Homo sapiens: one gene and its partners. The protein of the gene in region 3 purifies or fractionates together with the protein of the main gene of each other region. This does not show direct contact. Each region holds a gene or a part of one and is shown on either strand. Other genes may lie near its edges.

Region 1 (3,591 bases), on a different chromosome or scaffold from region 3:
TTGTGCCAGGAAAGGCTCACGCCACAGCCTCACCCTCGCCACCCACAGCCTGCTGGCTCAGTCACCAGATGCGTGTTTCTTCACATGGTGTTTGGTCCCCAAGTGACAATCTCTGTCTTTTTTGTAAGGTTTCCCTCTCAGCGCATTTAACCGCTTAAACCCTTTATCTCCTTGAGAATCTGAAATAATTGAGGAGTGGACAGTTACTAGTCAGATGAAAATACCAGCTTTGTGGTGAGTAATAGCAGACTAGAAAAATGCAGCTTGCCTTGTAATCAGAGTAGGCCCTCTCTCACCTCCCCAGCCCGCCCTGGGGACGCATATGGGCAAGTCGGGTCTGCACAGAAGCCATGTGAGTGTTGCTTAGAGTCTAGCCTCCCCATCCCTACCCCCCTTCGAGCACAGCAACCCACACTTCACAAGCTTGGACCACTGGCCATCAGCTGGCCAGTCTGTGTCCTTCTTATAGTGGGGTTTGGAAAGAATGAATGAAAAATAAAGAGAATGATGCAATTTCCTCCCCCATTATTATCTTGTTGAGAGTTTTCAGTTATGGACCGGCAGGGGGAGGACAGTTTCTGCTTCCATGTTGGTCTGGTGTCCCAAAGACGCTAAAAACAAACCCACTTGCTTTATTTCAGTGTAAGAGAAAAAAATTAGAGATTTTTCATCTGTTGGTCTCATTAACCAAAATGAAGTGAGCTGAGTTGGGTATAACCTAGGGTGTCTCTCTTGAGCTCTGAAAAGTGTGAATTCTCGTTTTCCCCAGGTTGCCGATATAGAATCTGGCAGACAGATTCAGCTGATCAACCGAAAGTCTCTGCGATCTCTCACTGCCCAGTTGCTGGTATTGTTGATGTCTTGGGAAGGAACCACCCATCTTTCTGTTGAGGAGCTCAAGAGACATTACGAAAGTACCCACAACACTCCCCTTAACCCCTGTGAATATGGATTCATGACCTTGACCGAACTGCTGAAGAGCCTGCCATACTTGGTTGAGGTAGGCACGTTAATGGCTCTTTAGAACTATCATTGAAAACTATCGATTGGGCATTTCCGGATTACCTGATGGTCTAGATTAGAGTGTGTAGAGCTGGAAGGGACCCGAGAGACCATTTCATGGATGAACACGCCGAGACCTCAGGCAGTGAAGCAGCCCTGCCTAAATGGGTGGCAGAAGCCAGTGAAAGCCTGGTCTCCTCATCCTGGCACTGGGGTGTGTTTGTCCCGTTCTAGGATGAAAGCCTGGTCTCCTGATCCTGGCTCTGGGGTGTGTTTGTCCCATTCCAGGATGGATTTCGCTACTGTTTTATCTTTCTGAATGAGATGGTTTATGTGGTGGCTTGAAGAGAGAGATGAGTAAGGTGAGGGCAGAAAGGAAGGTTGGCCAGCCAGTCCCCCAGGCAGCCTTTCAAGAATGGCGCTCCAAGATTGAGAGAATCTTAAGAGAATACTGCATGCAATTCTCGGGCGACAGATATAAAAACCTAGAGTAAATAAATGAAATCCTGGAAAAAATAAGTTACCAAAATTCACTCAAGAAGTTAAAAATTAGACCAATTACCATAAAAGAGACTATAAAAGATCACTGAAATATACCAGTGAAAAAGGCATCAGGACCAAGTGAGATAACAATTGAATTTCAACCAACCCTAAAAGAACAGATAAATCTACCTTTTAAAAAACCATTCTGGGGCCCGGCAAGGTGGTACACGTCTATAATCCCAGCTACTAAGAAGGCTGAGGCTAGAGAATCACTTGAGCCCAGGAGTTTGAGGCCAGCCTGGGCAACATAGCAAGAACCCATCCCCAAGAAAAAAAATACTGTTCTAGGCTGCTGAAAAAGAAAAAAGGAAAGCTTACCATTTATTTTTACGAAGCCAAAATAAATTTAATACCAAAAACATAAGATAGTCCCTTAAAATGATCCTAAATAAGATATTAACAAATGAGCTCCAGCAATTTAAAAGAATGATATGCCATTATCATCTAACTGTGGGACACATCATTAAATAATGAAAGGATATACATCCAGCATTTTCTAAACTCTGTTAATATCTATCCTAAGAACACCAGTTCTGGACAGGTGTTAATGCATATTTCAGGACAAAGGACTTTCCCTGTCCAGCTAAGATTGGGAATATCCTTTCTCTTGGCGATTCCATAGCATGTTAAACACTTTGAAAAGGTTTGTGGTAAAGAAATCTGCTTCCTTACCCTGCATACACAAGGGTTTTGTGTTTGTTTCTTGTTGCTTTTGATGTGTTTTTAAAGAATGCTAGTGTCATCCTCTTATCACAGTGTTTCTTGGAAAACTGGTTTGGAGGTGCAGTTTAATGGCCCCAGTGTTCACTGTGTGTACCGTGATTTGCCAACACAGTTTGCCTCCCCCGATTTCTTCCCTACTCACACACTGTCTCTTCAGACCGCTGCAGCCTTCGACTTGCAAATAGAACTGAAGTTTGCTGGAGGCTATAGCCTTCTCTTGGAGGAAATCCTTGAATATATCCCTCCTCCTTTTCTTTCTCCTCTTCCTTCTTTCCTTCCTCCTCCTCCTTTCTTCTTCTTTGTCTTTTTTGTCATCTTCATCTTCTTCATCTTTGTCTTTGTCCAATTCGTCGTCTTCGTCTTCTTTATCGTCGTCTTCGTCTTCTTCATCGTCGTCTTCGTCTTGTCTTCGTCTTCTTGTTCTTTGTCTTCATCTTTGTCGTCTTTATCTTCGTTTTTGTCTCGTCGTCTTTGTCTTCATCTTCTTTGTTGTTGTCTTCTTTATCTTTGTCGTCTCCTTCTTCTTCGTCATCTTTGTCTCCTTCTTCATCTTCATCTTCTCATCTTCGTTGCCTTCTTTTTCTTCTTTGTCTTCGTCTTCAACTCTGGGCCTTTTCCCTCAGTGGGAGGCCTTCACTTTCCACGGGGCAGGGCCAGTCACTAATATTTCTAATGCTGCGTTTTCTTTTTAACCAGGTTTTCACTAATGATAAGATGGAAGAATGTGTGAAGCTCACAAGTCTGTATTTGTTTGCAAAGAATGTGCGGTCTTTACTTCATACTTACCACTACCAGCAGATTTTCCTTCATGAGTTTTCCATGGCCTATACCAAGTATGTCGGAGAAACTCTGCAGCCCAAGACCTACGGCCACAGCAGCGTGGAGGAGCTCTTGGGAGCAATTCCACAGGTGGGCATTTTTCTCAGCTTCCGGGAGAGCATCTTCTGAACAGCCACAGGCTAACTGTCCTGAACAGAAAAATAAAATGCTGCCAGAATAATGGAACGGCAGGCATTTTGAATTGATCCTTTCAAAACATACTGTTGGTCTAAAGTAAATGATTTTAGCATTTCTCCTTGATTCTTTCTGTAAACCTTTATTAAATCCCTATATGCCAGGTGAGTAAGTTTCAGGCTGTAACTCTAGAAAGGTGTTGGTTAATGGGAGAGTCAAGACCCCCAAGCAGGCAACTAGTCAGGGCGGTCAGGGCAGTGGGCGCGCTGAGGAGGGCCGTGTCAGGGCCCACTTCCCAAGCCTGGGGAGCCTGTTGCAAAACCTTCAAGGATGTGCCTGAGGGAAGCACGTGACAAGGAGGGGAGAGAG
Region 2 (4,178 bases), on a different chromosome or scaffold from region 3:
CATCGTTTCCACTGACTAGAATTTACTTACCGCTTCTCTATGTTTTACTTTTAAGTCTGGCAGAAATCTCCTTACCACTCTCAAATTGCTCCTTTCTTTGAACTGCCATTAGTCTATTAGAGTAATAAGTGCATTATTTAACGTGTACTGTTCTTACCACCAAAACCAGATCAGAACCTTTGAAAGCAAAGGACTGTCTCCTTGTATCCCTGATGTTTAAAAATTATTTTGTGAATCAAAGGCACGTGGCAAATTGTTACTGGAATCCTATTAGACATACAGTATTGTATATTACATAACACGTTCCTTCAAGTTGTAAGATCTTAATGATGTAAGTATAAAGAGATGTGGATGGAGATGCTAAACTTGTGAATTTTTTTTTTTTTTAGACGGAGTCTCACTCTGTTGCCCAGGCTGGAGAGCAGTGGCCCGATCTCGGCTCACTGCAACCTCTGGCACCCAGGTTCAAACGATTCTCCTGCCTCCGCCTCCCTAGTAATTGGGATTACAGGTGTGCACCACCACGCCCGGCTGATTCTTGTATTTTTAGTAGAGAGGGGATTTCACCATGTTTGCCAGGCTGGTCTCGAACTCCTGACCTCAGATGATCCACCGGCCTCGCCCTCCCTAAGTGCTGCGATTACAGGCGTGAACCACCACGCCCGGGTTAAACTTGTGAATTTAACATGTTGCAGCCTCACATGAGAACACGGTATTCAACAAATGCAATGGAACGAAACTATGGCTGGGGTACAGAGCACGTATTTTTGCCATGTGGTCACAACTATGTGGTCATAGCTGCTAGGATGATGTACGCAAACTGCTCACATTAAAGCAAAAGTACTTACGTAATACAAGGGGTTTAATAGTGCAACAATATTTCTTAGCAACATTTCTGAGGGGCATATCAAGTTATTATCGCTAACGTTATCATATCAGGAAATGACGGTTAACAATGCAAGAAACTTTTGGGAAATGCTATTTAGTGTTTGAGTCCGCAAGACATACTCGTACCCTGAGCATTCGCAGTTGCTGCTCCACCACCCATTCTCTCACTGCTCACCCACGTGCTTCTGGACACTTGCTTACCAAAGTACTAGTTTGCATCACGTGACACGACTAGCAGGCCCCCTCCGCTCATGTATGACATCCCAAAGATGCCTGATTATTTTCCCTTCTTTAGGGAAAGGTGGTCCCAATCACCAACAAAACAGAGAAAGAGAACGAGAATTATCTCTAGTGGTTTTGCCTGCTAATCTTCTTTTTCCCTGAAAGAACACCCTCACGGCACGGCGTTTTCCTTAACGGTCAGGCGTTTTCCCGGGCAGCTTACCTGCTCGGCCTGGGTCTTTCTGGACAGCAGGCGCTGGAGGTGCGCGTCACTGTCCGCCGCCGTGTCCGCGGCTGCGCCAGACAGTGTAGAACCTGCGGCCTCGATGTCCTTCTCCCGTGCCCTATTGTGGGCTCGGCTCCCGGCGGGGCGCCAGGCTGGCCACCGGGCAGCCATCTGCTCTGCCCTTCGTCCCCACTTTGGGCCCTTTCCCGGGGTTCTGGGGCAAGTTTCTGTCCTTGCCACCGCCTCCTCCTCTGCCTCCGGTGGCTCCAAAATACCAAACACGTCCTTGTTCGTGCCCCTGACTGTGAAACCTCAGGGCCCCAGCGCCGACGGCGACGTCGGGGCCGAGCTAACCCGGCCTCTGGACAAGAGTGAGTGCGGGAACTACTGAGGGCGGCAGAGGGTGGTGTCTGCTGGGCCGAGGCTGGTTGGGAGGAAGCTACATCCCCTTCCCCTGGGGATCCGAGGTCCCATCGAGTGTTGTCATCGTGCCTCTCAGTGTCTGCCTCCTTCGCTGGTGTGTGAGCCCCTCAAACGGCTTAGGACTGTATCTGATTAATTCTTAACGCCTCGTCCCAGAAGCGGCCTTTTCCCTTTTACTGCCCTGCTCTCTGAATGGTTTAGACACTCATGTGTTGGGAAGATTTGACTTTTTTGAGTTGTTAGGTGGACGCCCGCTCTTTCTTGCATTCTTTGTTTCTCTCCCACCCCCGAATGGGATGTGGCAGTGAAAAGCCAGCGGAGACTCCTTTTAGGATTCTTTATCATTGAGGAGGCGCCGACTCATACCACGCTGTTAGGCTGTGTGGTGGTTGCCAAGAGGAACCAGACTCAGATCCAGATCCCCTCTTAAGAAACGTAACGGTATCGTGGGGGAGGACACGTGTATGGAAAGTGAACTGTAATACAAGGTAGAACATGACAAGGTCTAGAACAAGGTAGGGTGTCCCCGGCTCCAGAGAGAAAAGAAGAGGTAGCATCAGTTAGTGGCAGCGGGCTTTGCTCAGCAAAACTTAAGTTTGGATGGATTCGTTGACAGAGAGGCATGTGAATGTTTTCAAGGTGAGTTTCGGGATGATTAGGGAGGTAAGGGAGTTTCCTCTGACCATATGAAACTGGGAGATTGAGGAAATGCTATCCAGAATTGTCTCCAGGAATAGGAGGAGAAATGTCTCACTTCAACAAGCGACATTGGTGCCTCCTATTGTAAATCTAAAATATAGACTACAATATGTTTTTCAGAGCAGAAGTACAGTACTTTCACTAAACATGTGATGGAACTCACAGTATATGTTATTCTTTGACATATTCTTCCAGTGTTAAGCAAGGCCTTTCACTTTACTTGGTGCTGGGAGACTGTCTTTATTTTCTGCTGTTATAACATAATACCTGAGACTGAGTAATTTATAAACAATAGAGGTGTATTTGACTCATGGTTCTGAGCCGGGATCTGATGAGGGCCTTTGGCTGCATCATCACATGGTGGAAGGTGGAAAGGCAAATGAGCCTGTGAGACAGAGAAAGGGGGCTGAACTTATCCTTTTTTCCTGTGATAACTGACTCCTGTGATAATGGCATTAATCCACTCACAAAGGCAAACTCCTCATGTCCTAATCACCTCTTAAAGGTTCCACCTCTCAACTGTTAAAATAGCAATTAAATTTCAATATGAGTCTTGGAGAAGACATTCAAACCATAGCAGAGAATGTGTTATTTTAATAATGTAATTATACTATTATTTATTTTTAAATTATAAAAATACATAAAATTTACTCTTTTAAGCTTTTTTTTAGTTTTTTTTTCTTTACTTTTTTTTTTTTAGAGACAGGGTCTTGCTCTGTTACCCAAGCTGGAGTATAGTGGTATGATCATAGCTCACTGTAACCTCCAACTCCCAGACTCAAGCAATCCTCCTGGCTCAGCCTTCTAAGTAGCTAGGAATACAGGCGTGCATCACCATGCCTGGATAATTTTTTAATTTTTTGTAGAGATGGGGTCTTGCTATGTTGCCCAGGCTGGTCTCAAACTTCTGGGCTCCAGGGATCCTCCTGCCATGGCCTCCCAAAGCCCTGAGATTACAGACCTGAGCCACTGCACCCAGCCAGTCTTAATTGTTTTTAAGCACATAGTTCACTAGCGTTAAGTATATTGACATTGTCGCGAAATAGATGAGAACTTTTTCATCTTGCAGAGTTGAAACTCAAACAATAGTTTACCCATTAAAGAACAATTTTCCATTATTTTATATTATTTGAAGGCATAAGGTAATTTGGATGAGATAATTTGCCTTATTGTATTCAAATATTGATAAATTCTTATTTTCTGCAGCTATTCCAATTCACCTGAAAATGTAAATGTCTTTGCTGCTTCCTGTAAGAAGATAGAATAAAGACATGGGTTTGTCAGCACTAGATTTTCTTCTGGTGGAGAATCCTTAGATACTTCATTGGGTCTGTGTGCCAGGTGATTTTTCATCTCCTTTGACTGGGATTGGTCCAGATGTTGAATTTACTAGAATGATTTTTCAGCATGGCAGGAGGGGCTACAGAAGATGGTGCATTACTACACTCTGATATAGCCATGTGGTTAAGGTGTCAGATTTCCACTTAGCTTAGCAATCAGGACAAGAAGCTGTCACTTCTCAATCTCTTTTGCCTACTCATAACCCAAAAAGTTGAGGTACTTAAAGGCTTTGTCCTGCGTCACCTTGCTGCCTTATTCTGTGCTGTCTATGGGGTGTCTCATTCTCTCTCTCCCCTCACTAATTCAGTATTCCTCTCAGATCTTTGTCTCTACCCTGGACCTCTCTCCTTCACCCTGGACCTATATATCTCGCTGCCTA
Region 3 (3,591 bases):
ATAGCAGTGAAATTTTCCGTGTTCTTTTGTATCAAATGGGATGCTGACTAAAATATGAAGTAGCCTTTCCAGCAAAAATAACAGTAATGGATGAATAATTACAAAAGCTATAGGGAACTGAAAGACATTTTAATTTGTCATTATTTCTATGTATTCAGAAAGGATCTGAATAATTACAATGACTATAAAAAGGAAGAATGTGATATTTTTCCTCATTATGGGATTAAGTTCTTAATATACCACTTTTACTATAAGTTTAAAAAAAAAACCCTTTCATCTGATTTTCTCTAACTATGTAATCATGACTAAAGACTGTTTAGCTGTGAATATTTGGTCTTCTTACTGTTACGTGAAGATGCTGTCCTTCAAACTCTTTTTAATCTCAAAAGTGTTCATCTTTGCAGTTTATAAAAATGAAATTATACTTATTTGCTCAGTGAGAACTTTCAACCCTTATGTCACATTAATTTTTGAAGATGACAAGGACTGTTGAATTTCTTTAGGTCATGACCGGATGGTAGCAGAGTATGAGATTCTAAAACAGGATTTTAATTTTTATAACAACTACTAAAAAGTGGCTATAGCTACCAGGGTCATGCTAAGGCAAAATTTCAAACATTTCAAAGCTATTTTTAAAAATATGCATATAGTCTCAATTTTTTTAGTCTACATTATACCAACAATGTTCAAATTCTTATTCAGATCCTAAGAATATTCTATGACAGCACTGTTTTTGGAAAATGAAATTTCAACATATGCTCTGTGTTTCTAGGTGAGTGATAGAATTTTCTTTTGTAGCTTTTGAATTTTCATTTACCAGACTGCCAGTGAGACATTTGGACCTTAGCGAAGGAAGATGGGAAAACCTGTGAAAAGAGTCTAACCTGCTCTAACACTTTTGCCACCCTTCCCTCTAAAATATTCTTTAAGGGAAACAGCCACCACTAGAAGATGCTTTTCCAGCAGCTTCCTTTCAGCTGGAGCACTTCTTCAGCAGCATGCGAGAAATCCCCGGCAGAAGATGTCAACAAGCTCTCTCACCTCCTGCTTATGAGTTTTTCCAGGGTTCAAGTTCCACTGCTTAACAGCTGTTTGATCTTGTGCCATTAATTTAGCCAAGTGAAACCTCAGTGTTCTCACCTTTAAAAGGGGTGGAAATGGCACACATAGTAAAAGTGGTCTGTGGATTAAATTAAAATGTAAAGTAAATGTAAAATTCATGACTCGTAGTAGGCATGTTGTAAGAGGTAGTATCTTGTTGTCATAAAGAAAAAAACAAAACTAAAAATCCTTCAAAAATTGGCTCTCAATTTGATTAAATCAATACTTTTTGCAAGTAAGGCCAGAAAGAATTTTTTTTTTTTTTTTGACATGGAGTCTCCCTCTGTTGCCAGGCTGGAGTGCAGTGGCACGATCTCGGCTCACTGCATCAGGTTCAAGCGATTCTCCTGCTTCAGCCTCCTGAGTAGCTGGGACTACAGGCATGCTACCATGCCCAGCTAATTTTTGTATTTTTAGTAGAGACGGGGTTTCACCATGTTGGCCAGGATAGTCTTGATATCCTGACCTCGTGATCTGCCCACCTCTACCTCCCAAAGTGTTGGGATTACAGGCATGAGCCACTGCACCTGGCCCAGAAACAATTTTTTTTTTCTATTCTTCTAACAGAGAAAATTCTGAATGAGTGGACAACGAGGCTTATATTAATTTGAAATTTAGCCACTGTAATGTTGCTCTCCACTTTCAACAAGAGGGTTCTGCATGTAGTTATACCTGAAACTTAAAGATGGGTGTATGCAGCATGCCATAAATAAAAATCAATTCATTATTTTTATTTAAAAACATTTGGAATGAATTTAGTGTCTGGATTGACAATGTAGAGCTATACATTTTCTTGTACGTATGTGGAGATGGCATTAGTAATGGAGATATTTTATATATACAGGTTATTTAGAACCTGAAAGATTAACTTTACAAATTCAGATGCATTTGAATTTGATGGTTAAGGTAATATGAGAAGTAGAAGAGAGACAGGGGGTGGGGGGGAGAAAGAGGTGTTGGAATTTGTAATTATGAAAGAAGGTAACACTGTGTTTCCTTCTGTCTTATAGCCTGAAGAATAAGTAGTGAAAGCATCAATCAAGACATAAGAACAAAACATTAGCATTTCTCTGCCGTGGAGAATTGCTTATCAACCACCAGAGGAGGCTTCTTTCTTGAACAATAAACATTTCTTATAAGGATTCACAGATTCACATACGACTGATCTTGATTTTTGGAAATGAATGAGGTTTCTTTTTTCTTTTTCCTTTTTTTAATTTTGGGGTAAGTTATGATATTTGGATGGATTTTTAAATTCTTTCCTGATAACATATTTAGCACATGTTCTAAATTATAATCCTATAGCAAACAGTTGGAGCATTATTCAAACTGAAAGTGGAAAAATTTAAATTTCCAATTTATTCTAGATTTCCTCAGAGCATAATTATTCTGTTAAATCCTCAATGAGTGTGATGTAAACCACCTCTATCCAGAAATATACATTCTTTTCTCATCATGTTGGACACAGTTGAGGGTGACATGCACAGAACTGGAACAGATCACTATTAGTGGAAAATACCAAATGGACAAATAAATACCAGTCGTTTTCTCCGTTCTCCAAGCACAGGAGCCAGGTTTACCATCTGAACAATGAAGACGAAGGGAGTAAATAAAGGAAGAATTCTCATCTTTTTTCCTGATCATTCAAAGAACAGTTTCTCAAGGTTAAGCCAAGTCCTCCTTGCAAGTTGCCAAATAATAGCTTAGGAAAAGAATTAGTCTGCCTGCATGATGATCTTCTTAGGCAAAAACGTCTTCACAGCCCTTGACCTTGGTGAATTTTTTTCCCCAAAAGCATCCAAAAGAAGAATTATAAACCCCAGAATGAGATGGAAATAAACAAGTATTTTTTTTTATGATGTTTGGCCTGAACTGTGGGCTTTAATTGGGGGATACTGATCGTTTGGAAAGAAGTGAGAAAATTCTGAAGAAATGGCGGCCTTGGGCTAGGCGGGGTCCCCTATTTCTTCTGTTTCTCACTGAAGTCCTACTGCTGAGCCAAGACTCAGTCACTCTGGAAAGAGCATGACCGATAAAGAAAACAGTTCCTTTCTGATGGGGAGCGTCTGAGTGCAGATCATGAGGCTCTTTCTCTAGGTTTAATTCTTTTCCATGGTGACCGGACTTGGTGTCTTGTAGCCTGGTTACGAAGTGGGACGTTGAGCTTCTACTGACGATGCCCTGCATGGACCAGCTGGGATCTGGCTGGGGCTGCCCTGTGTCCCTAACGACCATAGGCAATCCATCTTCTTGTGTCAGCAATTTCTGGACACCCACTGTTTTCCACCAAGAGCTGAGGTGGCAACAACTCAGTGAGCAATAAACAAAATGACACAGAAATGCACAGTGTTGTTATGAAGGAGCCTGTTTACCTGTGTTCAAAATCTGGCACCATTCCCTTGAGCAGGGCCCGCTCAGGAGGGACCAGGTCTGCCAGTTTCTGTGCCTGCAGAGAGACGAAGCCCCACGAGCCACACCCTACTCTACAAG
Region 4 (3,591 bases), on a different chromosome or scaffold from region 3:
ATCCTCATCCCTACTTTCCCCAACTGCAGCCCTTGAAGAGAACCCCAGGGATTCCTTCAACCATAAGTTGGGGGAAATAAAAACAACTCTGTTCTAAACCATCTCATTTTTTTTAAAGATGAAGAAGTTAGAGTCCAGAGAGGTAAAGTAACTTGACCAGGTTCACACAGATAATTAGCATAAAAGCCAGGACCAGAGCCAGAGAATGCCAAACAGAGCACATTTTGTTTCTCTGAAAGAAAGCACTGTGTACATTCAAAGACTTATTATTTCCACTGGGGGTAATTATACCCAAGAAATGTGACGGAGAGAGGGGAGACTCTCTTGCCCAAGAAGTGGTGACAAAACCAACAGTTGCATAATTGATAAGTAAATGACGGTACATCCATATGATGGACTTCCATGCAGCATTAAGACAACTTTTCAAACAAATTTTTTGGTAATCTGAAAAATGTTAACTATAAGGTTAAGTCATTTTATTTCTTGAAAAAGCAAGATATCAAATTATATGAACAGAATAATCTCAATTCTATTCAAAATATTTAATTATGCATATAAAAAGATTAGAAACATATAAAAATGTTAACAGGGATATTGTCTGACTGGTAGGATTATCAGTGATTTTTAAATATTATCCAAAGTTGCTATAGTGAACACACTTATAATCAGAGAAAATCTTATGGGGGAAGGATGAGATGAATAAAATATCCAAAGCGGTCAATAGTAGATGAATTTTTAAAATCTATCCTTTTGAGATAATATTTAAAAAGTTATGCTAAAATAAAAATACATAATTGATGTTGGAGCATGAGAATGCATTAAATATTTAAATTTCTTCTAATGTTGTTCAGGCCTTAAGATGTCTTCCAACTCTAGTGCCAAGCACTGTGCATACATGCTACGTACTCAATAAATTAGTTCATCCCTCATCCCTAGAGTTTCTTGGCTATATAATCTTCCGATCCCTCATATGCAAGCAAAACACCCATTAAAAATAGTTGGTAGTGTACTTAGGACTATTTAAAAATAGTTTCATTAAAAAACAAATGTGGCAGAGAATGGTGGCTCATGCCTGTAATCCCAGCACTTGGGGAGGCCAAGATGGGAGGATTGCTTGAAGCCAGGAGTTTGAGACCAGCCTGGGTGACATAGACCCCATTCTACAAAAAAATAAAAATAAAAAAATTAGTTGGGTGTGTGATATGTGCCTGTAGTCCCAGCTACCTGGGAGGCTGAAGCAGGAGGATTGCCTGAGCCCAGGAGTTCGAGGCTGCAGCAATCTATGATCACACTGCTGTACTCCAGTCTTGGCGACAGAGCAAGACCTTGTCTTAAAAACACATGTGTGCGCACACACACACACACATACACACACACACACACCACACTCCAAATGTTATATATCAGGGAGATGTTGGCTTTTCATAGTTTTATAATTAATTGGTTTGTGTGTTCACTTTTTAAAACTAGGTCAATAACTTTATCTTCCTGCTTTTTCCTCACAGCCCTGCCAAGCCCAAACATGTGGAACTAAATCTTAAAACCCCTAAGAATCTTGACAGTTTGGGAAATGAGCACAATCCATTTAGCCAGCCAGTTCACAAAGGCAACACTGCCACCAAAATCTCCTTATTTGAAAACAAACGGACAAACAGTAGCCCAAGACACACTGACATTCGAGGCCAAAGGAATACTCCTGCCTCTAGTAAAACGTTTGTTGGGAGGGCAAAGCTGAATTTAGCCAAAAAAGCCAAAGAAATGGAGCAACCTGAAAAGAAAGTAATGCCAAACAGTCCCCAGAATGGTGTGCTGGTTAAGGAAACTGCTATAGAAACCAAAGTTACCGTCTCGGAAGAAGAGATTCTGCCAGCAACCAGAGGAATGAATGGAGACTCTTCTGAGAATCAAGCTCTTGGTCCTCAGCCTAACCAAGATGATAAAGCAGATGTACAAACAGATGCTGGCTGCCTTTCAGAACCAGTGGCTTCTGCTCTGATTCCTGTCAAGGATCATAAGCTCTTAGAGAAGGAGGACTCAGAGGCTGCAGACAGCAAAAGCCTTGTACTTGAAAATGTAACCGATACAGCACAAGACATCCCCACCACTGTGGATACCAAAGATTTACCTCCAACGGCCATGCCAAAGCCACAGCATACATTTTCTGACTCACAGTCCCCTGCTGAGTCATCTCCTGGGCCTTCTCTTTCACTGTCTGCACCCGCTCCTGGGGATGTTCCCAAAGACACATGTGTTCAATCACCCATAAGCAGTTTCCCATGCACTGATCTAAAAGTGTCAGAAAACCATAAAGGATGTGTTTTGCCTGTGTCTCGTCAGAACAATGAGAAAATGCCACTTTTAGAACTTGGAGGAGAAACAACCCCTCCTTTGTCCACAGAGCGTAGTCCAGAAGCTGTGGGAAGTGAGTGTCCATCCAGAGTCCTCGTCCAGGTCAGGTCCTTCGTGCTCCCCGTGGAGAGCACCCAGGATGTGAGCTCCCAGGTCATCCCAGAGAGCTCTGAAGTTAGAGAAGTGCAGTTGCCAACTTGTCACAGTAATGAACCTGAAGTGGTTTCCGTTGCAAGTTGTGCTCCCCCACAAGAGGAAGTACTGGGCAATGAACACTCTCATTGCACAGCAGAGCTCGCGGCAAAATCTGGCCCACAAGTCATACCGCCAGCATCAGAGAAAACTCTGCCTATTCAGGCTCAAAGTCAGGGCAGCAGAACACCCCTGATGGCTGAATCCAGTCCCACCAACTCTCCCAGCAGCGGAAATCACTTAGCCACTCCTCAAAGGCCAGATCAGACTGTTACAAATGGCCAGGATAGCCCTGCCAGCCTTTTGAACATTTCTGCTGGTAGTGATGATAGTGTATTTGATTCTTCTTCTGATATGGAAAAATTCACTGAAATTATAAAACAGATGGATAGCGCAGTTTGTATGCCCATGAAAAGAAAGAAGGCCAGGATGCCAAACTCTCCTGCTCCTCACTTTGCCATGCCTCCTATTCACGAAGACCATTTAGAAAAGGTGTTTGATCCCAAAGTGTTTACCTTTGGTTTGGGGAAGAAGAAGGAAAGTCAGCCAGAAATGTCACCGGCTTTACATTTGATGCAGAACCTTGACACAAAATCCAAACTGAGACCCAAACGTGCATCTGCTGAACAGAGCGTCCTCTTCAAGTCCCTGCACACCAACACTAATGGGAACAGTGAGCCTCTGGTGATGCCGGAAATCAATGACAAAGAGAACAGGGACGTCACAAATGGTGGCATTAAGAGATCGAGACTAGAAAAAAGTGCACTTTTCTCAAGCTTGTTATCTTCTTTACCACAAGACAAAATCTTTTCTCCTTCTGTGACATCAGTCAACACTATGACCACGGCTTTCAGTACTTCTCAGAACGGTTCCCTATCTCAGTCTTCAGTGTCACAGCCCACGACTGAGGGTGCCCCGCCCTGTGGTTTGAACAAAGAACAGTCAAATCTTCTGCCCGACAACTCCTTAAAGGTCTTCAATTTCAACTCGTCAAGTACATCACACTCCAGTTTGAAAAGTCCAAGCCACATGGAAAAATACCCGCAAAAA

What was found.
Region 1: the proteins of ZMAT4 (region 3) and MARF1 purify together in Homo sapiens (co-immunoprecipitation; one large-scale study listed by IntAct). This does not show direct contact.
Region 2: the proteins of ZMAT4 (region 3) and SUPV3L1 purify together in Homo sapiens (affinity purification with mass spectrometry; one large-scale study listed by BioGRID and IntAct). This does not show direct contact.
Region 4: the proteins of ZMAT4 (region 3) and CRYBG1 purify together in Homo sapiens (affinity purification with mass spectrometry; one large-scale study listed by BioGRID and IntAct). This does not show direct contact.

What each region holds. Positions count from the first base shown.
Region 1 is NC_000016.10:15,601,577-15,605,167, reverse strand, and holds part of MARF1 (meiosis regulator and mRNA stability factor 1), read left to right. Parts: intron 1-769; coding exon 770-1,000; intron 1,001-2,964; coding exon 2,965-3,177; intron 3,178-3,591.
Region 2 is NC_000010.11:69,178,856-69,183,033, forward strand, and holds the start of SUPV3L1 (ATP-dependent RNA helicase SUPV3L1, mitochondrial), read left to right. Parts: upstream 1-1,378; 5' UTR 1,379-1,436; coding exon 1,437-1,707; intron 1,708-3,664; exon of another isoform or gene 3,665-3,799; intron 3,800-4,178. UniProt on the Homo sapiens protein: Major helicase player in mitochondrial RNA metabolism. Component of the mitochondrial degradosome (mtEXO) complex, that degrades 3' overhang double-stranded RNA with a 3'-to-5' directionality in an ATP-dependent manner.
Region 3 is NC_000008.11:40,530,759-40,534,349, reverse strand, and holds part of ZMAT4 (zinc finger matrin-type protein 4), read left to right. Parts: intron 1-2,111; coding exon 2,112-2,127; 3' UTR 2,128-3,591.
Region 4 is NC_000006.12:106,517,626-106,521,216, forward strand, and holds part of CRYBG1 (beta/gamma crystallin domain-containing protein 1), read left to right. Parts: intron 1-1,505; coding exon 1,506-3,591. UniProt on the Homo sapiens protein: May function as suppressor of malignant melanoma. It may exert its effects through interactions with the cytoskeleton.